7 linked regions of the Homo sapiens genome follow. The protein of the gene in region 1 interacts with the protein of each later gene in a pairwise test. Each region holds a gene or a part of one and is shown in the gene's direction. Other genes may lie near its edges. The genes, in order: MFF, FDCSP, CYBC1, TMEM97, RAET1L, PLLP and C3orf52.

What was found.
Region 2: the proteins of MFF (region 1) and FDCSP interact in binary tests that used the Homo sapiens proteins (3 or more experiments, as listed by UniProt).
Region 3: the proteins of MFF (region 1) and CYBC1 interact in binary tests that used the Homo sapiens proteins (3 or more experiments, as listed by UniProt).
Region 4: the proteins of MFF (region 1) and TMEM97 interact in binary tests that used the Homo sapiens proteins (3 or more experiments, as listed by UniProt).
Region 5: the proteins of MFF (region 1) and RAET1L interact in binary tests that used the Homo sapiens proteins (3 or more experiments, as listed by UniProt).
Region 6: the proteins of MFF (region 1) and PLLP interact in binary tests that used the Homo sapiens proteins (3 or more experiments, as listed by UniProt).
Region 7: the proteins of MFF (region 1) and C3orf52 interact in binary tests that used the Homo sapiens proteins (3 or more experiments, as listed by UniProt).

Annotation. Positions count from the first base shown.
Region 1 is NC_000002.12:227,352,751-227,356,250, forward strand, and holds part of MFF (mitochondrial fission factor), read left to right. Parts: intron 1-2,926; coding exon 2,927-3,011; intron 3,012-3,500. UniProt on the Homo sapiens protein: Plays a role in mitochondrial and peroxisomal fission. Promotes the recruitment and association of the fission mediator dynamin-related protein 1 (DNM1L) to the mitochondrial surface.
Region 2 is NC_000004.12:70,224,721-70,228,923, forward strand, and holds the start of FDCSP (follicular dendritic cell secreted peptide precursor), read left to right. Parts: upstream 1-1,403; 5' UTR 1,404-1,462; intron 1,463-4,203. UniProt on the Homo sapiens protein: Can bind to the surface of B-lymphoma cells, but not T-lymphoma cells, consistent with a function as a secreted mediator acting upon B-cells.
Region 3 is NC_000017.11:82,444,920-82,447,752, reverse strand, and holds part of CYBC1 (cytochrome b-245 chaperone 1), read left to right. Parts: intron 1-131; coding exon 132-173; intron 174-1,056; coding exon 1,057-1,130; intron 1,131-1,792; coding exon 1,793-1,889; intron 1,890-2,833. UniProt on the Homo sapiens protein: Functions as a chaperone necessary for a stable expression of the CYBA and CYBB subunits of the cytochrome b-245 heterodimer. Controls the phagocyte respiratory burst and is essential for innate immunity.
Region 4 is NC_000017.11:28,322,200-28,325,692, forward strand, and holds part of TMEM97 (sigma intracellular receptor 2), read left to right. Parts: intron 1-3,303; coding exon 3,304-3,448; intron 3,449-3,493. UniProt on the Homo sapiens protein: Sigma-2 receptor which contributes to ameliorate dysfunctional cellular processes and slow degenerative progression by regulating cell functions including cholesterol biosynthesis/trafficking, membrane trafficking, autophagy, lipid membrane-bound protein trafficking, and receptor stabilization at the cell surface.
Region 5 is NC_000006.12:150,020,184-150,022,532, reverse strand, and holds part of RAET1L (UL16-binding protein 6 precursor), read left to right. Parts: intron 1-289; coding exon 290-553; intron 554-1,346; coding exon 1,347-1,628; intron 1,629-2,293; coding exon 2,294-2,349. UniProt on the Homo sapiens protein: Binds and activates the KLRK1/NKG2D receptor, mediating natural killer cell cytotoxicity.
Region 6 is NC_000016.10:57,278,173-57,281,672, reverse strand, and holds part of PLLP (plasmolipin), read left to right. Parts: intron 1-3,500. UniProt on the Homo sapiens protein: Main component of the myelin sheath that plays an important role in myelin membrane biogenesis and myelination. Plays an essential function in apical endocytosis. Regulates epithelial development through the regulation of apical endocytosis.
Region 7 is NC_000003.12:112,106,889-112,110,388, forward strand, and holds part of C3orf52 (TPA-induced transmembrane protein), read left to right. Parts: intron 1-2,654; coding exon 2,655-2,725; intron 2,726-3,500. UniProt on the Homo sapiens protein: Has a role in LIPH-mediated synthesis of 2-acyl lysophosphatidic acid (LPA). LPA is a bioactive lipid mediator involved in different biological processes, and necessary to promote hair formation and growth.

The DNA of each region.
Region 1 (3,500 bases):
GGCCAATTAGTATGAGGGAAAATGTTTAATAATTATGGTATGATGTGAACAGCTATTTTATTTAAGTGTAGTGTTAATAGTTTATAGGTGGTTTATAATAATTTACATGCTAAAACAGAAAAAAGTCTTAAATCTTATTTTATGTACATCATTTTAATGGTTGCCTGAATTGTGCCCAGCATTTCCTTTTAAGTTGTTAATTATCTGGAATGTTACTTTTAGTGTGTGAACAAACCTGTCTTTGTTTGTAAGGCTTCATCTTAAATTGGGAGAAATCAGCATTAACAACTCCACAGTTTGGGAAGGTACATATTTAGAAAGGAAATTTAGTTTTAAGCATTTTTATCATCTGTTGATTTAAGGCCTTCTCTCTTATTTTTGCCCTTTTTACACTTTCAGACACGCGTAGGTTGAGCGTTCCTTTCTTCCTGACACGCACAGAGGCTGGCAGAATGGCACATACAAATACATGCAGTTCTTAAGTGCCAAAATCCCCATTTAGTTTTCCTATAGTCTGGAAAAAATCAAAAACTTGTTGGTATTCACAGATGCTATTACTGTATAATTTTTTCAGTCAGTTTTATTTAAGCAGAAATATATTGTCGGTAGCAGTAGATTTAAAACTGGCAGCATCGTTTCTGTGCTTAGAAGTTGGTGCATTCATTGAAGCAAGAGAAAAGGGAAGCATTAGCTGCTCATTAAAATTGAATTCATGGTGGAGGAATTGAAAAGCGTGCCTGTGGTAATCCCTTACCACTCTGCTGACTTGTTTCTTTTTACAATCTTAGTTCAGTTCATTGTCGTTTTCCCTTATATTTTTCTCTAAGTTTGTGATCTTTTATCTTTCTGTCAGAGTATTTTCAGCCAGTGGTCTAACTTAGCATTAGAGTTTTTTAGTTCTAATAAATACGGTTTTTGTTTAAAACACAATGTAAAGTAACATATTTTTGTTTTAAATTGAAGTATATAGGTAAAATCTTTTGTCATATCCTTATATTTCTTTGCAAATCGAGATTTCAGATATCTAAACCTTAGTTAATTCAGGATATAAATTGTGAGTAATCGCTTTCATTTGTACTTCATTCTGTATGTTCAGTTCAGATCCCTTTAACAATTGCTTCTGTTTGATTTTTTTCCTAATTATTCCTCTGTTATGTGGCCTCAGAGAAAGAGAAGAGTTTTATTTTGAGGATGAAGTGAAGGAAAAGGGAATCTTCTACCTTTATTTTTTCCACTAATCATTTGTAAACCCATAGTTCCAGCATCTACTAACTTAGAAGTTTACTTCTCTAACTGGTATAATTACCCTAACTGCTCCAGGTTGTTTACTGTGTTCTCATGAAATAAGGAGACAGTTAATGAGAAAGCAGGATAATTTAGCCATAGAAGGAATATTTGGAGATGGTTGTAGATTATCTAGAGTCAGTACACACCATCTATTGTTTAAGGTTTTTTGCATACTTTATTAAAGTATTTTTATTACTTTTAACAATATTTAAAACAAAAGGATTTTCTGAGTAGACTTGTCTTTAACATGTCTGGATGAAAAGTATAATTCTGCTTCATATCCCTTTTTGTGGGTATGTACTTTTTGTAGTGGGGACTTGCTGGGATAGGTATTAGAATAGATGATCCATTTGCCAATTCTCTGGACTACACAGGAATAACTTTTAATTTAGTTTATTTATATTCTGCTCATTTAGAAAATTTACTATGCCATTTTACTAAAATAACCATTTAGGGTATAAAATACATGTGAGGTGAATTATGTGGTTATATAAGTTGTATCTCAATGAAGCTATTAATTAAACTAAATTTTAAAATGTGGAAATCCAGGCAAAGAAGAGGAATGGCGTTTGTCTTTGTTTTTCAGAGGTTTAGTGTCATTCACCTAGAAATTAGTGCCGCTTTAGAAGTAACTACATTGGAACAAAAAGTACTTTTTTAATATGCTTTCTCTGGATTTTGTCTTAATGGTTTTTCAGTATTATTTTATACACAGCATTTTATTCATTATTGGGCCAATTCTGGAGCTAAATGTAGTGGTAAGATGTATTCAGGAGATTTTATAATTGTTTCTGCGGGAGAACACAGTAGAGCATAAGTAATTGGAAATAAGTAAAGAATAGGCCAGGCGTGGTTGCTCAGGCCTGTAATCCCAGCAATTTAGGAGGCTGAGGTGGGTGGATCACCTGAGGTCAGGACTTTGAGACCAGCCTGGCCAAAATGGTGAAACCCCATCTCTACTAAAAGTACAAAAATTAGCCGGGCATGGTGGCAGGTGCCTGTAATTCCAGCTACTTGGGAGGCTGAGGTAGGAGAATCACTTGAACCCCAGAGGTGGAGGTTGCAATGAGCCGAGATTGTGCCATTGCACTCCAGCCTGGGCAACAAAAGTGAAACTCTGTCTCAAAAAAATAAAAAGACAAGAAGTAAAGAATAAAAATGGCAAGACAAGAGGCAGTGAGAAGAGGTGATGAGTCTTTCTTTTTTTAGAGTTAGTCTACTTTGTGTTCCCTGCTAGTGAGTCTGTGCCTATGGGCTTACATATGGACATAAGTTTGTGTAAGAATTATATTTTGTTCTATCCTAAGTGGCAGCTCTCAAACCTTTTCAGCCAGGGACCCTTTTTAGCATCGCCAATCCTTCTGGCTTGAGAATTTTCTATGTGTTTCTTTAGTCAGGATTTTTTTCCCATTCTCCAGTTTTTAGTGCCCTTTTTCAATATTGTAGACAGTTGTCATTTTAAGCTTTTTTCTTTCCTTTATTAGTACAAATTCAGGTAGTAAAATATTTTAGTAATTCATATTATTAAGTACCAATTTTCTGAATACTACTTTGAGCATTACACAAAGCATGATGTGGCGTGCCATTTACTCTGAGTTCTACTTTACTATTCATTTGTATTTCTATCTCTTATCTGCAGGTATGGCATTTCAAATATAGATACAACCATTGAAGGAACGTCAGATGACCTGACTGTTGTAGATGCAGCTTCACTAAGACGACAGGTATTTAGTGTACCAAATAAGATATATTTCTCAGTTATATTCATACAATATTTTAAAGTGATAGTTCTCAACATTTTATTATTTTCTCTCCTGTGGGACTATCAAACTAGTAAGCCATCATTGATTTTCTCATTTTGATTAAAGATATATTAAACTACCATTTACATGTTTTGATCACCGTAAAACAGTATTACCAAGATAGATTAATGTAATTCTGGCCAGTAACAAAGAATCTTTAGCAAACCAGTACAGCCATCAGTTGCTTGTTTGGCTTTTGAAATGTGGAACAATTACTTTGGAACCTTTGTTACTGTGTTTAATAACTCCATTTTGGAAACCGCTCCTTGCAGCTTGCACAGCATCCCTGCATACGTATTTCCTGTATTCTGTAATAAATCCTTTCTTAGAACTGCAGTTGCACATGCATATTTTTTAATATGTACTCCCACAGCCTCGAGTATCACACAGACATACACACATGTGAAGAAG
Region 2 (4,203 bases), on another chromosome or scaffold:
GATAAAAGAAATTGAAGTAGAATAAATTGAACGACAGGTTTTAGGTAAGGAAATGGATAATACACACACACACACACACACACACACACACACACACACACACCTGTCATCCCCATCCCTGGGGAAATGTACTATGAGCCCCAAATTGGTCAAAATATGTACAATAACATAACAGGTTTAATATATTAAGTTTCTGATTCAGGCAGTTTTCTTTAAATCATTGAGATAAGATTAAACGTTGAGTTATAGGTGAAGGAAGTAGTTTAATGTTTCTCTGGCTTTGTGCTGATTTTTCTAACCTTCTGTTAACAGTGACAGTATAAGGCACCAGTTATAAATGTGGGTTTTAGAACCAAATTGCTGGTGCTCAATTCAATATCTGCCAGAGACTAGCTGTAATACCCAGACTGATTACTAATATTCTCTGCTTCTCAGTCTCAAAATGGGATGGTGTTGATCATAGTACTTTCCTCTTAAGGTGGTTGTTTGGGAGATTTAATTATATTATATATATAAAGCATTTAAATTTGTGCTTCAGCACTTAAAGTCCTCAAAAAAACTTACCTGCTATTATTTTTCTGAGTTGCCTTGAGAACTGAATTCTAGAAAAAATAAAAAGAAGAAAAGGGACTTTGATGCACTACTACTACAATCTGGACTATATAACCTCTTTTGAAGTAGAAATCGAACTCAATAACAGAATATTCTTAAAAGCTCTCGAATTAGTTAAAGCTCAAATTTTATGACTCTTGAAAAAGGCATATACAATATGCACGCATATTTAAGGTAATTCTTGAATGTTTTGTGGGCCCTAGTTTCTGTTCCCGCACTTAATAATGATACCTTTTCTGCTGTAAGTGAATTTTTAGTTGAGAAATAGAGTATAGTGTTCCATAAGGTAAACAAGATGCTGTGGTGCTCCAAAAATACAATTCACTCATCTACGAAGCTCTAATCCTGATAATAAAATGAAGAAGTTGAAAGAAGAATCATGCAAAAGATTTTAATCCCATCTTAAACAATTTTTAGATTTTTTATTTTCTTAAGATTCCAGCACTATCAAATATGCTTTGCAATAGGTTATAATCAATACCAGTAAAATGCTTAGAGGTATTTTAAATTGTGGGAAGTAAAGGAAAAAATTGTGAGAGTAGACAATGGAGCAACAACATGTAAAGTGATAAACTTCAAATATACAAGACACAAAATTTGGAGAAAAAAACCACAAAAGATTTTGGTATTTGGTAGTTTCTAGGAAACTAAACATTGGTTATTCCCCAATTTCAACATATTGAGATAGTTGATGAGTAATAACTGATCCTAGGGGAGAGGCCTTTAAGCCACAGATTTCTCCATTCCATTATACCTTTGAGTATATAAAACAGCTACAATATTCCAGGGCCAGTCACTTGCCATTTCTCATAACAGCGTCAGAGAGAAAGAACTGACTGAAACGTTTGAGGTAAGAAAGGTCTTAAATATCATTGTAAACTAAGATTGTATATCTATTTTGTAAATATAGATATATAGCATCTCTCCATATATTTTTCTTTAAATCATAAAAATTTTAATTGTTGAGACTAAATTGTAATGGTTGCTTGAATTTGTAGACTTAGTAATTAGAAAACCATTTTTAGTATTCTGTTTGCAAAACTTTTTTTAAAATCACCACCCTGCTGTAGTAAATATTTATTTTAGAGTGACCATAAATGAATCTTTCTAGGAGTGGAGCACTGGTGGGGGAGAGTGTGGACAGAGTGAAACAACAGAGCCTCAGGTTTATTTTTAAATTTGTGGCCATCAGGTCAGCAAACAGAGGGAATACGCCCCGCCAGAGATTCTCTAAAGTCTGAGCAAGTGCCAATTTCTTTGGCCTCCTCTTTTATCTTTAAAATATATACAGTACTTACATTCCATTCCATAACATTTTATGTTGATTTTAATATAAAAGTCATTTGTCTTTCCCATAAACTCTTGAATAAAATTAATTATCTAGGAAGATGCATCTGATTTATCTGGAGAATCATTTATTCTACAGCACGCAGCAATAAACTGCTATGGGTATCATGACTTGATAAGTATAAAAATAAAAGGAGATAGCTGGTAATTATGCTGTGTCCTGACTCTAAGATATGATCTGGAAGAGTCTGTAATGTGGATTATTTACTTATTTGCTTAATGTAGTTTTGAATAATTCTTGAAACCAGTTGAAAGAAATTATATTGTAAAGGCCCTGCTTGAATTCTATTCTCTCCAAAACTATTTTCTCAACCTGCCTCTTTCTTCTTCTAAATACTCAAAATATTTTGCAATTTCTACATATGGTATATATCACGCTTTTTTTTCACATTACAGAAATATCTGTATCCATCTTCCATGTGGAAGTCTCAAGTGGAAGAAATTATGCTTTATCATTGTATCCCTGAAAGCACCCAGCATTGTTGCTTTGCACATAGAAAGTGGACTATGTATATGTATGTGTGTGTCTGTGAGGAGTATGTGTGAGTGTGTGCATGTGTGTGTTTGTATAATTTTTACTCTTGATTTCCTACATTAACAATCTGCCTGTAGAAGTCTGAACTTGACCGGAATTTTACATTCCTGTCTTCTCAAAATTATTAGATTATCTGGTACTTTTTTGAATTTGAATTCAAATTTTGATTAGTATCAGAAAATAAAGGCAGAGATCAAAACTTTGCTACATTTTTTACACTGCGTTCTTTTGTCTCATAGATGTATAGGAAACATCAAAAGGTGATAAAATTTCCCTAGAATCTCCACTATCTCAAAGGTACTTCAAAATGATAATGATATTAAAAATTGACATTTTCCCCAATGTAAAATATTAAATTAAATAGTCTTTAAAAAGCTTTGTAATGTATTTACTTATAACAATGTAACAGTGAGCTTAAAAGATCCATAAATCAGGGACTTTCCAAACTGATATTACAGGCAAACTTCAGAGATACTGCAGGTTCAGTTCTTGACCACCACCATAGAATGAGTATCAAAGTTAGGCAGGTCAAATGAATTTCTTGGATTCCCAGTGTACATAAAAGTTATGATTACACTACAGCATTGTATGTTAAGTGTAATAGCAGTATGTCTAGAAAAACAACATACATATCTTAATTAAAACATACTTTATTGCTCAAAAATGCTAACAATTATCTCAGTCTTCACTGAGTCATAATCTTTTTGCTGGTGTAGGGTCTTGCCTTGATGTTGATGGCTGCTGAATGATCAGGGTGATGGTTCCTGAAGGCTAAGCTGGCTGTGGCAATTTCTTAAAATAAGTCAACAATGAAGTTTGACACACAGATTGACTCTTCCTTTCACAAAAGATTTCTCTGTAGCATGCGATGTTGTAGCATTTTGGAGCATGTGAAGCATTTTGCCCACAGTATTTCTTTCAAAATGGGACTCAACCCTTGCAAACCCTGCCACTGCTTTATCAATTAAGTTTATGTAGTATTTTAAATCATTTACTGTCATTTGAAAAATATTCACAGCATCTTCACCAGGAGTAGATTCCATCTCAAGAAACCACTTTCTTTGCTCATCCATAAGAAGCCATTTTTCATTCATTCAAGTTTTACCGTTAGATTGAAGCAATTAAGTCACATGTTCAAGCTTCACTTCTAATTCTAGTTCTCTTGCTATTTCCACCACATCTGCAAGTTACTTCCTCCACTGAAGTCTTGAATCCCTCAAAGTCATCCACAAGAGTTGGAATCAACTTCTCCCAAACTCCTGTAATGTTGATATTTTGGCCTCCTCCTATGAATCACAAATGGTCTTAATGGCATCTGGAGTGGTGTATATTTTACAGAAGGTTTTTAATTTACTTTGCCCAGATCCATCAAATAAATCACTATCTGTGCCAGCTATAGCCTTACAAAATGTATTTATTTAATAATGAAACCTGAAAGTCAAATTTACTCTTTGATCCATAGGCTGCAGAATGGATGTTGTGTTAGCAGGCATGAAAACAACATTCATCTCTTTGTACATCTGCTTCAGAGTTCTTGGGGGCTCAGGTACATTTTCAATGAATGGCAATATTTTGAAAAAAACATTTTTTCCTAAGAAGTGAGCTGAAAATATTAGTAAACCATGCTGTGTTAGATGTACTGCCATCCAGGCTTTGTTGTTCCATCCACAGAGCACAGGAAGAGTAGATTTAGTATAATTCTTAAGGGC
Region 3 (2,833 bases), on another chromosome or scaffold:
AACCCCTGACCACAGCTGTTCCTACAGTGGGAAGGGCCTGCTCATCAGGGGCTGTGGCTCCTGGTCCCGCTGCACCAGGGAGGTGGGGTCTTACCGGGATCAATAGGCAGGCAGTCACTTTCTCTTCATAGGAATCTTGTCGATTGGCCTGGCTGCTGCCTACTACAGCGGAGGTAAAGCACCCCCCGCCCCACCCCCCCATGACTGTCTCAGCTGTTTGGAAAACAGAGAAAAGAAGGAAAAACTGTCATTTGTGACTGTCCATGGGGCGGCCTTTAGGATCGGCACCTCTGCCCCTTGATTGCTGGCGGGCACCGCGCCCTCCATGCGCTGCTGTTCTTCCGCACGCCCATCCTGCCCAGCGCTCAGCCCACATTTCACTTCTTTTTTTTTTTTTTTTGAGACGGAGTCTCGCTCTGTCACCCAGGCTGGAGTGCAGTGGCGGGATCTCGGCTCACTGCAAGCTCCGCCTCCCGGGTTCACGCCATTCTCCTGCCTCAGCCTCCCAAGTAGCTGGGACTACAGGCGCCCGCCACTACGCCCGGCTAATTTTTTGTATTTTTAGTAGAGACGGGGTTTCACCGTTTTAGCCGGGATGGTCTCGATCTCCTGACCTCGTGATCCGCCCGCCTCGGCCTCCCAAAGTGCTGGGATTACAGGCGTGAGCCACTGCGCCCGGCCACATTTCACTTCTTAAGTCTTCTGTGTTTTTGGGTCATCAAATATTCCCGGAGAGATGCTCTTGAGGATCTAAGATCCAGCTGTGGGATGAGGTGTACTTCCCACCCTGCCACAATCACTGGGCCTGCCCAGACGGGCAGAGGCCCTGTGCGCCCCACCTGCCTCTCTCACGTGGACTCTGGGGGTCAGAGCTGGGTGGGGTGTGCCGCGTGTGGGTCCTGAGTGGCCAGGGCAGGGTCAGCAGCACAGGAAGCTGCCCAGGGGGTCCTTGCAAGCGTGGGCTCTGGCCAGCGTCTGGGGGAGGCTGTGCTAGGCGGGGCCTCCCGTGGGCATGTCCCTGGAGCTCACAGGCTGGCGCCCTATGCCCATCTCCAGATAGCCTGGGCTGGAAGCTCTTCTACGTCACAGGCTGCCTGTTTGTGGCTGTGCAGAACTTGGAGGACTGGGAGGTAAGGCCGGCTCGGGTGCGGGACAGAGTCCAGGGCTGTTCAGCTCCTGGGTTTTTTGCAATGGGAATGAAAGGAGGAGGAAGGGCCCTGGGTGGCCTAGCGCCTCCCCGTCCTGAAGCGTTGGTCCCTGCTTGGAGGTCTCCGTTCATCAGGACATGGCCCCTGCACTCATCTGGGACCGTTCTTGGCCAAGGAATTCCCCGAAGGCATTTTTCTCTTAGAAGCTCTCCATGACTATCTTCACCAAAGTGCTTTCTTCCCAGAGTTGCCACAATGGGATGCGAGTCAGCTTTCCCCGTGGCCGGCCCTCCCACCTCGGAGCCCCTCATGAGTCCTTTCAGCCTGGCCCAGTGCTGCCCTCTGACCTCCATGCCCTCGTTTGCTGGTTCCACTGCCTCCCTGCACTTGTTTTGCCTGCAGGGTGGAGCAAGCGCCTGCTGCACCTGCCCACCTCTCCATTTCCCAACAGGAGTCGGGTTGGCTGCCGATATCCGGCTCTGACAGAGCAGCACCTGTGGCTTCAGGGGTTTGGGTTCTGACTGGGAGGGTCCCCAGCCCCCCTTCTTGAGTGTCCACCCTGGTGAGGGTGGGGGTGAGGCCCCAGCGGCCACGGGGCCCCCGTTCCTGGAGGTTCATGGTGGTCAGTGCATGTCGGTTTCCAGGAAGCCATCTTCGACAAGAGCACAGGGAAGGTTGTTTTGAAGACGTTCAGCCTCTACAAGAAGCTGCTGACTCTTTTCAGAGCTGGCCACGACCAGGGTGAGTCGTGGGGAGCGTGGGGACATGGGACACGGCCACAGAGGCGGCGCACTTGGGCGTCTGGGTGACTCACGGGGCCTAGAGGGGGGCCTGGAAGTGCCTTTGGTCCAAGCTCACCTGCTTGGTGACCAGGGTTGTGTCCTGCCCGCTGGAAGCAGGATCCCACGGATACGCCCCACCTGCTCACCTGCTCAGCAGGGTCCTAGAGCCTCCTGGGTTCTTTAGAGGTTTGGCCCCTGGGGAGAGTGGGAGGAGCAGGGGTCTGAGGAGCAGGGGTCTGGCAGAGCAGGGGTCTGAGGAGCAGGGGTCTGGCCCACCCGGGCTCGGGCAGCCTCTGTTTAGCTGCATTCTCCCGTCTGCCTGGCAGCCACTTGTCCGCAGGTGCAGTCTGGCCCCAGCGGCAGGTCACAGGACGGGGCAGGGAGAGCCATGGCAGCCCGTGGGCGTTCTGGAGTGGGGCCACCTGGCTTCTTGCGGGCCTTGGCGCTGCTCCAGCTTTCCTGTGGGTTCTACTGGGCCTGCAGTAGGGGCTGGATGGTCCGAGGAACTCCCCACCCTTGAGCCTGGGCACTGGCCCAGCTGTGGTCAGTACCAGTTTCCTGTAGATGCTGCCGCACAGACAGACAGAGGCCCCGGGGTCCGGCCGCCCATGCATAGCCCCAGAGGGGACAGATTCTGGCGACCAGAGTTGCTGGGCAGTCTTGGGTTTAGTGCCGCAATGCTGCACTTCTGACAGGCTGCTTCCTGGATCCCTGCAGGGACCTGGCCAGGGCATTGGCCCCAGGTCACCTGTGGCTTTGGGGAGAGCAGTTGCAGGGCTGGCCTGGGCTGTGGGAGGCAGCTGTGCCGTTTTCTGACAGCCATTGGGACCGCCCCAGTACCCGAAGAGGTGGCTGCCCTGAGTTGCCACGGGAAACTGCAGGGTGGCCCTGGCTCAGCAGCCA
Region 4 (3,493 bases), on another chromosome or scaffold:
GCTTGGAAAAACTCATTTTTTTATTTACTTTTTGTTTTTCTTTCTTTTTTTTTTTTGATTTTGTTTTTGAGACAGTCTCTTGTCGCCCAGGCTGTAGTGCAGTGGTGCAATCTCGGCTCACTGCAACCTCTGCCTCTCGGGTTCAAGCAATTCTCCTGCCTCAGCATCCCAAATAGCTGGGATTACAGGTGCTTGCCACAACGCCTGGCTAATTTTTATATTTTGTTATAGATGGTGTTTCACCATGTTGGCCAGGCTGGTCTCAAACTCCTGACCTCAAGCGATCTGCATGCCTCAGCCTCCCAAAGTGCTGGGATTACAGGTGTGAACCACCACGCCTGGCCTGGAAAAACTCTTATTTTATTATGAAACAGTAAGAATTTAGTTTGGATAAGAACATGGTAAGGAGAGGATGGGAAGCATTTTGTAGTATCATTTGCAGCTGGGTAACATTGCTTCTGGTAAAAATAAGGAAAAACAAGTGAGCATCTGGCTCTGAAATCAGTCTGTGTTCCCATTCTAAATTATAGAAGTACAAGATTGGTGAGTAGCAACCACTGGTTTAGAGATCGTGCGTGCAGGCCAGGTGAATCTTTTATGTATAACAAGGGTGGGTTGAGTCAAATAGAGTCAGGTATAAGTGGAAACAGTTTCATTACCTTTGGTAGGGAGGCCATAACTAATAATTTTTAATGACCAGTCGTGAGCTGCGATTTTAATGGGATTAAACTTGAATATCTCCAAATATGTATTAATTACATTCAATTAATCATTATGTGCTAGCCATTATTTTAAAGACTACATGTATTAAGTCACTCTCTTACCAATAGTGAAGTAGGCACTATTACTGGCTCTATTTTATTGATGGGGACACAAGTGTAGGGAGATTAAAGGCCTTGCCTAAAGCCAGGCACTCTACCCCAGGTCCTACACGCCTCACCCATCTGCCAGGTGCCTGGGCTTTCTACTCTCCTACTCACAATTAGTCCCAGCCTCATTCTGGCATCAGGTGGCAGGTATATGACTGTGGGCAGATGGTTGGTTACGATTATGATAATTCATTATTACGACATCTGGGTGATTGTTTTTTAAATTTTGCTGATCTCATCTTGTAGGCCTTAGAAATTAAAGTGCTGTACAAGTCTGCCTCAGTTTATGAAATAGTTGGATCAGAGAGGTTGTAAACAAATTGAATAGAAAGTGAAGTTCAAATGGCCAGAATGCCTTTTTTTTTTTTTAATTTTTTTTTGAGATGGAGTCTCGCTCTGTCACCCAGGCCGGAGTGCAGTGGCTCGATCTCGGCTCACTGCAACCTCAGCCTCCAGAGTTGCTAGGATTACAGGCGTGAGCCACCACACCCAGCTAATTTTTGTATTTTTAGTAGAGACGAGGTTTCACCATGTTGGCCAGGCTGGTCTCAAACTCCTGACCTCAGGTGATCCACCCGCCTTGACCTCCCAAAGTGCTGGGATTATAGGCATGAGCCACCGGGCCTGGCCCAGAATGCCTCTTAAATTTTGCAGTCAGGCCGGGTGCAGTGGCTCACACCTGTAATCCCAGCACTTTGGGAGGCTGAAGCGAGGATCGCTTGTGCCCAGGAGTTCGAAACCAGCCTGGGCAATGTGGCAAAACCCCGTCTCTACAGAAAATTAGCTGGGCTTGGTGGCGCATACCTGTAGTCCCAGCTACTGGGGAAGCTGAGGTGACAGAATCATCTGAGCCCGGGATGTTGAGGCTGCAGTGGGCCGAGATCAAATCACCACACTCCACCAGCCTGGGCAACAGAGACTGTCTCAAAAAAAATAATAATAATTTTATAGTCAATCTTTTAAAGCAGGTAGTGTCATCCAGTATTTTTAAAAATCTAAAAAGCAAAAAAGGGATCTTAAGAAAACATCTAGTCCAAGTTGCTCATTTTACAGATGAGGAAGTAGAACCCTGGAGAGGGACAGTGACTTAGCCTTTGTGTTTCTTATCAATTCAATCCTATTCAAACCACATTCCCATCCAGAAAAGTGCTTAGAAGGAAGCGAAGGGCATTGCTATGAATTTCAATTTCAAATTAAGTACAAATTTGGATATCCTTTGGTCAATAAATTGGTTATCTAGCCAAAGCCTTTCTGAAATTAATAATATGCTAACAGGATATTTGTTTCTGGATGTTTGCTTAAAGTGCTCTTGCAGCAGTGGGGCTTCTATTTCACAATAGCGAGGCTTTATCTTTTGATTAAAAATTAACAGGAAAAATATTCTTGGATTTTCCATTGTAAGTAAGATAAATTCTTACCCTGGAGTTGCCTTTATTAATCATAATATCAAGACTTATTTGTCTTTGAAGGCCTGTGTGTCAGGGCAGCGCCACATCTAGGAGGTTAAATGTGACAAACGTTTAGTAGTCCACATAGAGCCAAGAGCACTAGGCTTTGGGCTCCTATAAAAGCCCAAGATGGGAAGCCTTAAACTCTGCTTCTTTTCTCTGCCTGTAGCCAGGTCAGCATGGATCCGCATCCTTTTTATTTGACAAGGTAATTACAAGCGTGGGGCCCAAGCTAGAACTGAGACGCTAAAACCCTGCATAACCAAGAAGCTACTAGGTAGTTTGTAGTTTGGGGCAGAGTTTGTTCTTCCACTAAAATCCTGTCTCCTAAAATAAACCAAAAATTAGAATTAGGGGAGTTAAGGAACTTGTTTGTCATATTGGAATTAAAGTGTCCAAAATTACATCGCCACAGAGGTTAGATTTACTTCCCCTTTCACTCCCACCCCCACCCCGCAAAAAGAAGAGGGAAATTCAATTCATTTCTGCATTTGAGGGAATCTGGCCTTTGGAGGAGTTTGGTGTGTAGTTGCCATTACAAAAGGGAAAGTGTCAGGATGGTTTTCATGTGTATTTGTTTTTTTAAACAAAGAATGATATTGTTGACAGAAATGTCACATTTGTTCATTCAGCGAACACCCTGAGTGCCTACCAAGTGCCAGATACTTATTGTTGCTCCTGACAGTGGCCAACACACCTGGATGTGTTATCTTGGAATTATGAACAGATTCTGGGTAACACAAAGAAGGGGCTGGAAGAGTTGAGAAAATTTCAGAGAAGGGAACATTTGAGTTAGGGATAGTAAGTTTTTATTAAATGACCACCTAGGCTGTGTCACAAAAGCCAGCTGGACATGCCATCTGCTGCCGGGGTAGTGGGGGGTGGCTAATTAATGACAGGCTCCTCCAGTGTATTTTCAAATGAGCTAGCGCCGAGCCTGTTGAGGGCAAGTGGCTGTAATTCATCATGATCGTTTTCTTTTTCAGTTTAGAAACCTGCTGAAGTGGTATGCTAAGGAGTTCAAAGACCCACTGCTACAGGAGCCCCCAGCCTGGTTTAAGTCCTTTCTGTTTTGCGAGCTTGTGTTTCAGCTGCCTTTCTTTCCCATTGCAACGTATGCCTTCCTCAAAGGTTGGTAAATGGTGGGAAAATCCCATTTTTACTCAGAAATCAGGT
Region 5 (2,349 bases), on another chromosome or scaffold:
CCTTTCTAGCAAGGTCATGTGTTGACTGATGTGGGCAGAGGGGCAGTGGGACATGTCTGGGGACATGTGGTTTCTCAGCAGACAGAGACTTCCTCCTCCTCCTCCTCCTTGTCCTCATGCAAGGGGCGAGCACTCGCCTTAAACTTGTAGACACCACAGTTCTGGAGGGGGCACTCCTTCCTGGGCCAGCCCAGCCTGCCAGAGGCATCCTCTTATTGACACAGCGTGGAGGGGGGCTAACTAGGGGTCTTTTCCTCCCCACCCACCCCTCACCTGCCTTTCTCCACAGACCCTCACTCTCTTTGCTATGACATCACCGTCATCCCTAAGTTCAGACCTGGACCACGGTGGTGTGCGGTTCAAGGCCAGGTGGATGAAAAGACTTTTCTTCACTATGACTGTGGCAACAAGACAGTCACACCCGTCAGTCCCCTGGGGAAGAAACTAAATGTCACAATGGCCTGGAAAGCACAGAACCCAGTACTGAGAGAGGTGGTGGACATACTTACAGAGCAACTGCTTGACATTCAGCTGGAGAATTACACACCCAAGGGTAAGTTTCAGATGGCCCAGGACAGCAGGGAGCAGATACAGTGGTAGGTTAGAGGCATTTATAGTTTTCATGTAAAAATACAAAAGGGTCCTGGGCACGGTGGCTCACGCCTGTAGTCCCAGCACTTTGTGAGGTAGAGGTGGGCCGATCACAAGGTCAGGAATTCGAGACCGCCTGACCAACATAGTGAAACACTGTCTCTACCGAAATGCAAAAATTAGCCAGGCATGGTGGCGCATGCCTGTAATCCCAGCAACTTGGGAGGCTGAGGCAGGAGGATCCCTTGAACCCGGCAGGCAGACGCTGCAGTGAGCCGAGGTGGTGCCATTGCACTCCAGCCTGGGCAACAGAGTGAGACTTTGTCTCAAAAAAAAAAAAAAAAGCCAGGTGCAGTGGCTCAAGCCTGTAATCCCAGCATTTTGGGAGGCTGAGGTAGGCGGATCACAAGGTCAAGAGATCGAGACCATCCTGGTTAACACAGTGAAACCCTGTCTGTACTAAAAATACAAAAAAATAGCCGGGTATGGTGGCGGGCGCCTGTAGTCCTAGCTACTTAGGAGGCTGAGTGAGCCGAGATCGCGCCACTGCACTCCATCCAGCCTGGGTGACAGAGCGAGACCCTTTCTCAAAAAAAAAAAAAAAAATACAAATGGGAAGGTCATCTTACCCCTCAAGAGTCTAGAGGCAAGGCCAAGATGTAGCAGAGAGAGTAAGGCCAGCAAATTGTAAGGGGAACAGGATGGGGGTGCAAAATTTGTCAAGATCAGAGCTGATCTCTCTCTGATGGGGGCAGAACCCCTCACCCTGCAGGCAAGGATGTCTTGTGAGCAGAAAGCTGAAGGACACAGCAGTGGATCTTGGCAGTTCAGTATCGATGGACAGACCTTCCTACTCTTTGACTCAGAGAAGAGAATGTGGACAACGGTTCATCCTGGAGCCAGAAAGATGAAAGAAAAGTGGGAGAATGACAAGGATGTGGCCATGTCCTTCCATTACATCTCAATGGGAGACTGCATAGGATGGCTTGAGGACTTCTTGATGGGCATGGACAGCACCCTGGAGCCAAGTGCAGGAGGTAACAGGAGAAAAAGAAACGGGGATCTTAAATGAGATCAGAAATGGGGATCTCAAGAAGTTAGTTCTTGAGTTCAGCTTCAATCATCCCAGTGTACACGTTTATGTTAAAATGACCTCCTCGTCGGGCCCTCCTCCTGGGGTTACTGGCATGCCTGTGCCCTCCCACCCTCCTCTTCCTTCTCCCTCCTGACTCCTATTCCTCACTGCACTTGCTTCTGCTCCCCACACTGTGGATTTCTCACCAGCCTTGAAACTGCAGGTGTCACTGTTTTCAGAACTTTTTCCTTAGTGTTTCCTCTTTTGAGAATCACTTTTCCTTTCCTTTCCCTGGTCTGGTTCTGGAAATCCATCAAAACCACTTCCAACACCAGCCAGAGATCCTCCCCTCCCCAACTCTGGGGCATCACCTCCTCTTCCCCCACAGCAGGAGGGTGGGGTGTGTTGTCACCTTGCTTCCCTCAGCAGCTGTGTGAGCTCCCTGAGGACAAGACACACCCCGTCTCCCTTCCTAAGCCAGGACCTGTCATACTGGCTGCCCCACACCAGGGGGGAGGGGACAAAACTTTTGCCTTCCAGGATGACCTAGGGTGGCAGGAACTGAGGAGGTGTCTCCTCAGATTTGGGGCCTGGACAAGGGTTGTCACTTTTGTGTTTCCATTTCAGCACCACTCGCCATGTCCTCAGGCACAACCCAACTCAGGGCCACAGCCACCACCCTC
Region 6 (3,500 bases), on another chromosome or scaffold:
CTGGCATGGTGGTGGGTGCCTGCAGTCCCAGCTACTCGGGAGGCTGAGGCGGGAGAATGGCGTGAACCCGGGAGGTGGAGCTTGCAGTGAGCCGAGATGGCGCCACGGCACTCCAGCCTGGGAGACAGAAAGAGACTCCGTCTCAAAAAAAAAAAGAAATAAAAAAAAAATCTGCTTGTTGGAGAAGCTGCATCCTGAGCTGTTTCTCTGGCAACAGGTAGTTCCACTGGGTCTGAAATGGGATATGTGGGGGTTAATCCAACAGGCACCACCATCTGCTGGGAAGCCATGGTAGCTCCCATCTATCAGGCCAGCACTAGGCTCAGGCCCTTTGCCAAGGCCTTTAGATCTTCTTAGTCGGCCCCATTTTAGGTGAGAAAACTGAGGCTCAGAGGCCAGTTCTTTGCCCAAGATCTCACAGCCCTCCTCCACAGGAGTGATTTTTCTGACTTTTCTGGCCTATGGTCTTAATGACCACGTGTGGCTTTGCTGCTACCTTCCCAGGATCTGTCATTATGGAGGGAGTGGTGGGGACCCTGGGCCCACAGCCTGCTTTCCAGGAGCTCTTGGTCAGTGAGAGAGGTGCCCAGAGGATGTGCTTCTCCCAGAGGGATCAGAGAAGGCTGCATGGAGCAGGAAATAAATGAGAAAATGGAAGCTAATTCTCCATCAAACCCTTCTGTTTCCCAGGATTTGATGAATGTTCCTGGTATGGTGGGAGGAAGGGGAGGTGGGTAGAAAGGCTCCCAGCTCCTGGAGAAGGAGATACACTTTTCATTCGGTATCAGAATGTGTCCTGAAGAACCAATCTCAGTATTCTTCACAGATGTCTGGTGGTGTTCATTGATTTATCACTATCGTTATTCCTTGTAGATTCAGAAAGAACACCAGATGGAATATGATATTAAACCACATAAGACAGAAGAGTTAAAGCGATGTATCTTTAAAAGCTGGTGGTGTGGAGGGGAGAATTGACTTGCAGCAAGTTTAAGGCTGTTGATTATTTGTTGAACTTCCTAGCAGCCTAGGCAAAAAGGGAAACATGAAGAATCTATGCAGATAGCGTCTAAAAAAGGAGGCAGGTCTTTGTTTTGTTTTGTTTTGTTTTCTCTTGCCAATGGATTCATGTCACAAGGCAGGCAAGTTTGATCTACAGATAACTCTTTTGGTTTTAAAAAAAAAAGGCATCAGTGCTACAGATTTTTGTGTAGCTCAGGTGGAAGAATGCAGAAGGCGTGGTTATTTGCTTATGGGGAGCTCCCAAAGCCTTTTTACAATAAGTATAAAGTAGTGCTGTTAGGTGCCCATCTCTCATTTTTTCAAGCCTCCCCAAGCCGTGGGGAGAAGGATGATCTTATCTGGATTTACTGATAAGTAAATAGGCTCCGAGAGGGTGAGGAACTTGTCCAAGGTCACACAGGATAGAGTGGCAAGCTTGGCTTTGCACTTCGATCTGGAAATCCAAAACCTGGCTCTAGCTATGCTTCCTCATCTTGTTTACTTTGGGGGTGGGAAGTTCTAGAGTGCTTTCTAGGGGGAAAAGGGGGACTGCAGGAAGGGAGACTCATCAGGGGCCAAGGCCATCAGGGAGGGCTTCCTGGCATAGGAAGGGAGAAGGAGGATCAGGACAGACCAGAGCTTGTACAGAGACCTGTCAGTCAGTAGGCGTCCTTGAGGCCCAGGATGTGGAAGCTGTGTGAATGCCCTGTGGCGGTAAGGCCATTTGGTTTGGTACCTTCTGTCCTTCCATTTTGCCCCACCTCCTGGGATTGGGGGTGGCCACACAATTCCCACTTTGCAGGTGAATAACAGATCAAAAGCCTCACCTAGCTAGGCAGGTGGCAGGGTGGCACATGCCTGTAGTTCCAGCTACTTGGGAGGCTGAGGTAGGAAGATTGCTTGAGCCTTGGAGTTTAAGGCTGCAGTAAGCCATGATCACGTCACTGCACTCTAGCCTGGGTGACAGAGTAAGACCCCTACTTTTTTTTTTTTTTCCTCGAGACAAGGTCTTGCTCTGTCACCCAGGCTGGACTATAGTAGTGTGATCACAGCTCACTGCAACCTCAACCTCCCAGGCTCAGACGATCCTCCCACTTCAGGCCTCCTGAGTATCTGGGACGACAGGTACATGCCACAATGCCTGGCTAAGTTTTTATATTTTTTGTAAAGATGGGATTTCATCATGTTACCCAGACTGGTCTCGAACTCCTGGGCTCCAGCAATCCACCTGCCTTGGCCTCCCAAAGTGCTGAGATTACAGGTGTGAGCCACTGTACCCAGTCCTCTACTCTTAACAAAAAAAAAAAAAAAGGAAGAAGAAGAAGAGAAGCCTTCCCTAGATCTCCATGATCCATGGGGTGGCATGGAGAGTGCTGATGGGAACACAGGCCTGGACGCTGAGAGCCTTGGGTTCAAATCCTGGCTCTGTCCCTTTCTGGCTGCATGATCCTGGGGGAGTTCCCAAATTTCCCTGAGCCTCACTTCCTTGTCTGTCAGATGGTGATGGCAGGATCTAGATCATGCCTGCAAAGAGCTAGCCTAGCACTATATGTGGGAATGAAGGACAGTTTGGATTCACAGGGTTATAGGATCCGAGGGTTCTTATGCAAGCATAAGAGGTGCCTTTGCAGCATCTCCAACATGAACTTGCATGCTTCCAGAGACAGGGAGCTCAGTTCTTCTTAAGGCTGCCTGCTCCATCCTTGGGCACTTGGGAGTGTTGGAAAGTTCTTCCTTATGGTGATACCGGCTCTGTCTCCGGCCCCAGGAGGCAGACCAGCTCCTCTGCAGATGAAGGGCAGGGCAGGGACTGAAAGCCAACTCTGGTCTCCAGGAAGGGGCTACCTAGATGAGATTGTTGGAGTCCGAGTGAGGTGTGAGCAGGGCTTGGTCACACTCGGATTGCAATGTCTGAGACTCCCGGGGCTTCCCTTAGCACTGAGATTTGTGGGTGGTTCAGTCTTTTTAGTACAGCATTCCAGGCCCCGCATGCCCAATATCTTCATCCAACCCAGCTCCACTGCACAGAGCAATAAATGCCTTGTATTGTTAGTTCCCCCCACACTCCCCACTTACTGCAAGGGGGGGAGTATTGAGTGTTTGGGAATTAATGTGTAATTACATTATGAATATATGAATACATTCTCCTCACAAAATAAAAAAACCTGTACAGATTACACTAAAGCTGTAGTTGGATTACCCACCTCTGTCCCTAAGGGGACAACTATTTGGGGTGTTTCTAGTCTTTTTTCCTGTGCACTTTTGAAAACATTGATAGTTTTATTCTGTATCCTTTGTTCAGCAAGTTGCTTTTCTCATACTTGGTGCATCTGAGAGCTCTTCTTGTGCTCTGTCATCCAGGCTGGAGTGCAGCGGCGTAATCTCAGCTCACTGCAACCTCCGCCTCCCGGGTTCACGCCATTCTCCTGCCTCAGCCTCCCGAATAGCTGGGACTACAGGTGCCTGCCACTACACCCAACTCATTATTGTATTTTTAGTAG
Region 7 (3,500 bases), on another chromosome or scaffold:
CAGACTCAGCTAATCAATTCGCTGAGCTCCTTGCTCAGTTTGCACCAAGCCTCATAGACATTGTGTGGGAGACACAAGACTAAGGGTTGAGGAACCACCCTATTTCACTTCTTTGGGCCCAAAGTGGACAGTGTGACTAACAGCTCCCCAAATGTAAATATGTCCTAAGTACAGCAGAGGAGCATGATCAAAAAGAATCTTCGAGTGAACACTAAAAATGATTTAGTCGACCACTCCATATGTTACCTTAAAATTTTAACTTAAAAATTTGCTGAAAGCCTGTTATGTGCAAAACACTGTGCTGGGCCCTAAAGATTAATAAAGGAAAGAAGGGAAGGAGGAAGCAGAGAAGACTGGAAGGAAGGATAAATATCACCTTTGCCATAGGAAGCTCAATCCAAAAGGAAGAGAAAGACATGAGTGCTTGACATTAGTGCTTGAAAAGATTCTCCTCTGCAGCATCCTCATCCTCCTCTCCATCACAGCATCCCCGTGAAAGCTGCTTTCCTAGTTCCCGAGTTTTCTAAATGACTGTCAGCCTATCGGCAACATCCTGTGCATTGGGGCTTAAGAGCTGTACAATGACTCAGTCATTTTCTCCGAAAGTTTTTGTCACTTTAAGCTTCTTTCCTCCTTGATATTCAGGAGACACTTTCCTTCACTGTATATATATCAATTTCTTCTTCACTGGGTAGTGTGGTCAGATGGGAAGAAGCTGGTTTTTAGTGTTCATAACATGTAGGATTGAATTTTGGCTTCTCCTTTTACTAGCACAGTGACCTGGGACAGGTTTTCTTCATCTCATGGAATGGAGTGCTGTTTAATTTTCCAGTAAAAAGGGGAGATATATTAATGCCTGTTTTGCCAGGTTTTTATAAAGATCACAACAGTAGTGACAAGATTAGAAGAGCAGAAATAGCAGGCACTCTCATCTTTTGTTCTCTTTGAGATATGGGTTGTACATGTTGAGTTAAATGGGAGTGTATTGTGGAAGTGCAGCGTCCTTGACATTCCATTTGGAGTTGAGGGGAAACAGGGTAAGCTCCCCATAGGGCACTGCTGTTTTTTGTATGTTCGACTGCTTGTTATTGAATAAAGTAATAGGTCATTAAGCCATAATGGCTGTAGCTGGGGATGGCACATGTTCCTAGTACTACTAGTTTAGGATTCAGATATCTGAAACACAACTACTCAATGCCTGGGAAAAGATACTTGTAACATAATATCAACAACTAGTATCCAGAATATAAAACTAACCACTTCAGATAGATAAGAAAAAGACAGATAAGCCAAGAGAAGGAAAGGAAATGAGTGAGAAATTCAGAGATGAAAAGTCCCAAAGAGTTAATAAACATGAAAAGATGTTCAACCTCACTAGTAAGCGAGGCAGTACAAATTAAAACAATGTGAAGCACTATTTTATACTCCTCGGAGTGGTAAAAATTTAAGTTTGGTAACACTAAGTGCTGGTAAGGATGTGGGAAATGGATATTTATACATTGCTGGGAGGGGTGGGAAAGGGAGAACAATTTTGTGAAGTTGGAGATGCACCTACCCTTAAACCCAACAATTCCTTTTCTTGGCATATGCCCATTGGAAACTCCCGCATGTCCAAGAAGAGATGCATGGAGACATTAAGGATGATTGCTTCAGCATAAGTTGTGATGGGGAAAATTGAGAATAGTGCATGTGATCATCATCAGAGGAATGGATAGGCTGGTATACTCATTTAAAGGAATCTGTGCAGGAGTTAGGTGAATGCCTTTCATTGAGATTTACTTTATGGGTAAATCTTAAATGTAATTTTGAGTGAAAAAAGGCAAGTTTTAGAAGATTATGTAGAATATGGTGCCTTTTATTTGAATAAAAACACAAATTATATTTTGTTATGATTACATAAATAAGTAGTAATTTGTAAAAATATGCAAGGAAAGGATGCATGCCAGCTTCAGAATGATGGTTAGTATTAAGAAAGAGAGAGAGGAGGAACTGAATAGTATGTAGGAGTCACTTTAGCTTTATTTTGTTTCTTAAATTAAAGGGCTGAACCCAATATAGCAAATATGAAGACATGAAAGCTAGGTAGTGGAAACACAGGTGTCATTATTTTTTATGATGCTTGCAATATTTCATGCATAAAATAAAGCCTCCATATTTTTGCAGTTCCCCTCTTTGTCTCTTTGTCCAGGGGATGTGCTAGACCCATGGCTTAGCATGGCTGTTTGTCTTTACACTGAAGCTCTGGAGAAGGGAGAAAGAAGCCCTGGGCTAAGCAATGTCCCAGGTGCTAAGTGGTCTGTGCTGCTGCTGTCCAGCAGCCATTTTGGGGTCTTCTCTTCTCTCCTTCCTATGGTCTGTGAGGCCTGTGTGGGCTCCAGCTGCTGATATTCTCACCACTAAGGCCACAGGGTGCCAGTGCAACTTCTGAGAGAAACTGAGTCATTTGGTCCTTATAAATGGAGTTCTTTTGAAGTAGCATTAACTTGAGTTTTGATTTATGGTGGGCTCAATTCTTGATCCAGAGCTTCCAGATAACGTTGATTCCAGGCTGGAGTGGAATCTCCTCTGCCTTAGAAGCAGTTTTGCTTTGTCAGGTGATGTGTAATATGATCTGTCGGTAATGTGTGTGGTTTAATTTGCTTCTGTTTGTTTAGCTCACAGATGTGTACAGTACATCGCCCTCTCTGGGTCGTTATTTTACTTCAGTTGAAATAGTGGACTTCAGGTAAGAGTGTGGAACATTACATTTTGCTCTCTTTCTCTGGAAAGAGATCCCCCCACCCCACCCTTCGTCATTTACCTAGCAGGGATTCCCAGAGCCTCAGAGCATGAAGGGAACCTGTAATAGAATCACAGAATGTCAGTGCTGGGAAGGTCTTTTACACCAACAGGCTCAACTCCCTTATTTTACAAATGAGAAAAAGGAAGCCCAGATTAATGGTATAATTCAACCAGGGTCACACAGAAGAGGGGAAAAGCCAGTCCCAGGTAAACCATTTCTGTTTAACAATGAATGCTCAAATAAGCTAAGGGTAGAAGTAGAAATAGATCTCAGGTCGTGCTGTGATGCGAGTGATACATGTATAGGCATTTGCTTTTGAGGAGCACAAGTAATACAGGAGTACATTCTCCTTGTTTAGTATTAAAGATGTAAAGAGGGGCCGGGCGTGGTAGCTCACGCCTGTAATCCCAGCACTTTGCGAGGCCAAGGCGGGCAGATCACTTGAGGTCAGGAGTTCAAGACTAGCCTGGCCAACGTGGTGAAACCCTGTCTCAACTAAAAATACAAAAATTAGCCAGGTGTGTTGGTGGGTGCCTCTAATCCCAGCTACTCAGGAGGCTGAGGCAGGAGAATCTCTTGAATTCGGGAGGGGAGGTTGCAGTGAGCCGAGATTGCGCCACTGCACTCCAGCCTGAGTGACAGAGTGAGACTCTGTCAAAAAAATAAAAATAAATAAAAATAAAAAAAAGAAGACATAAAGAGGTATGCACAGGAAAAG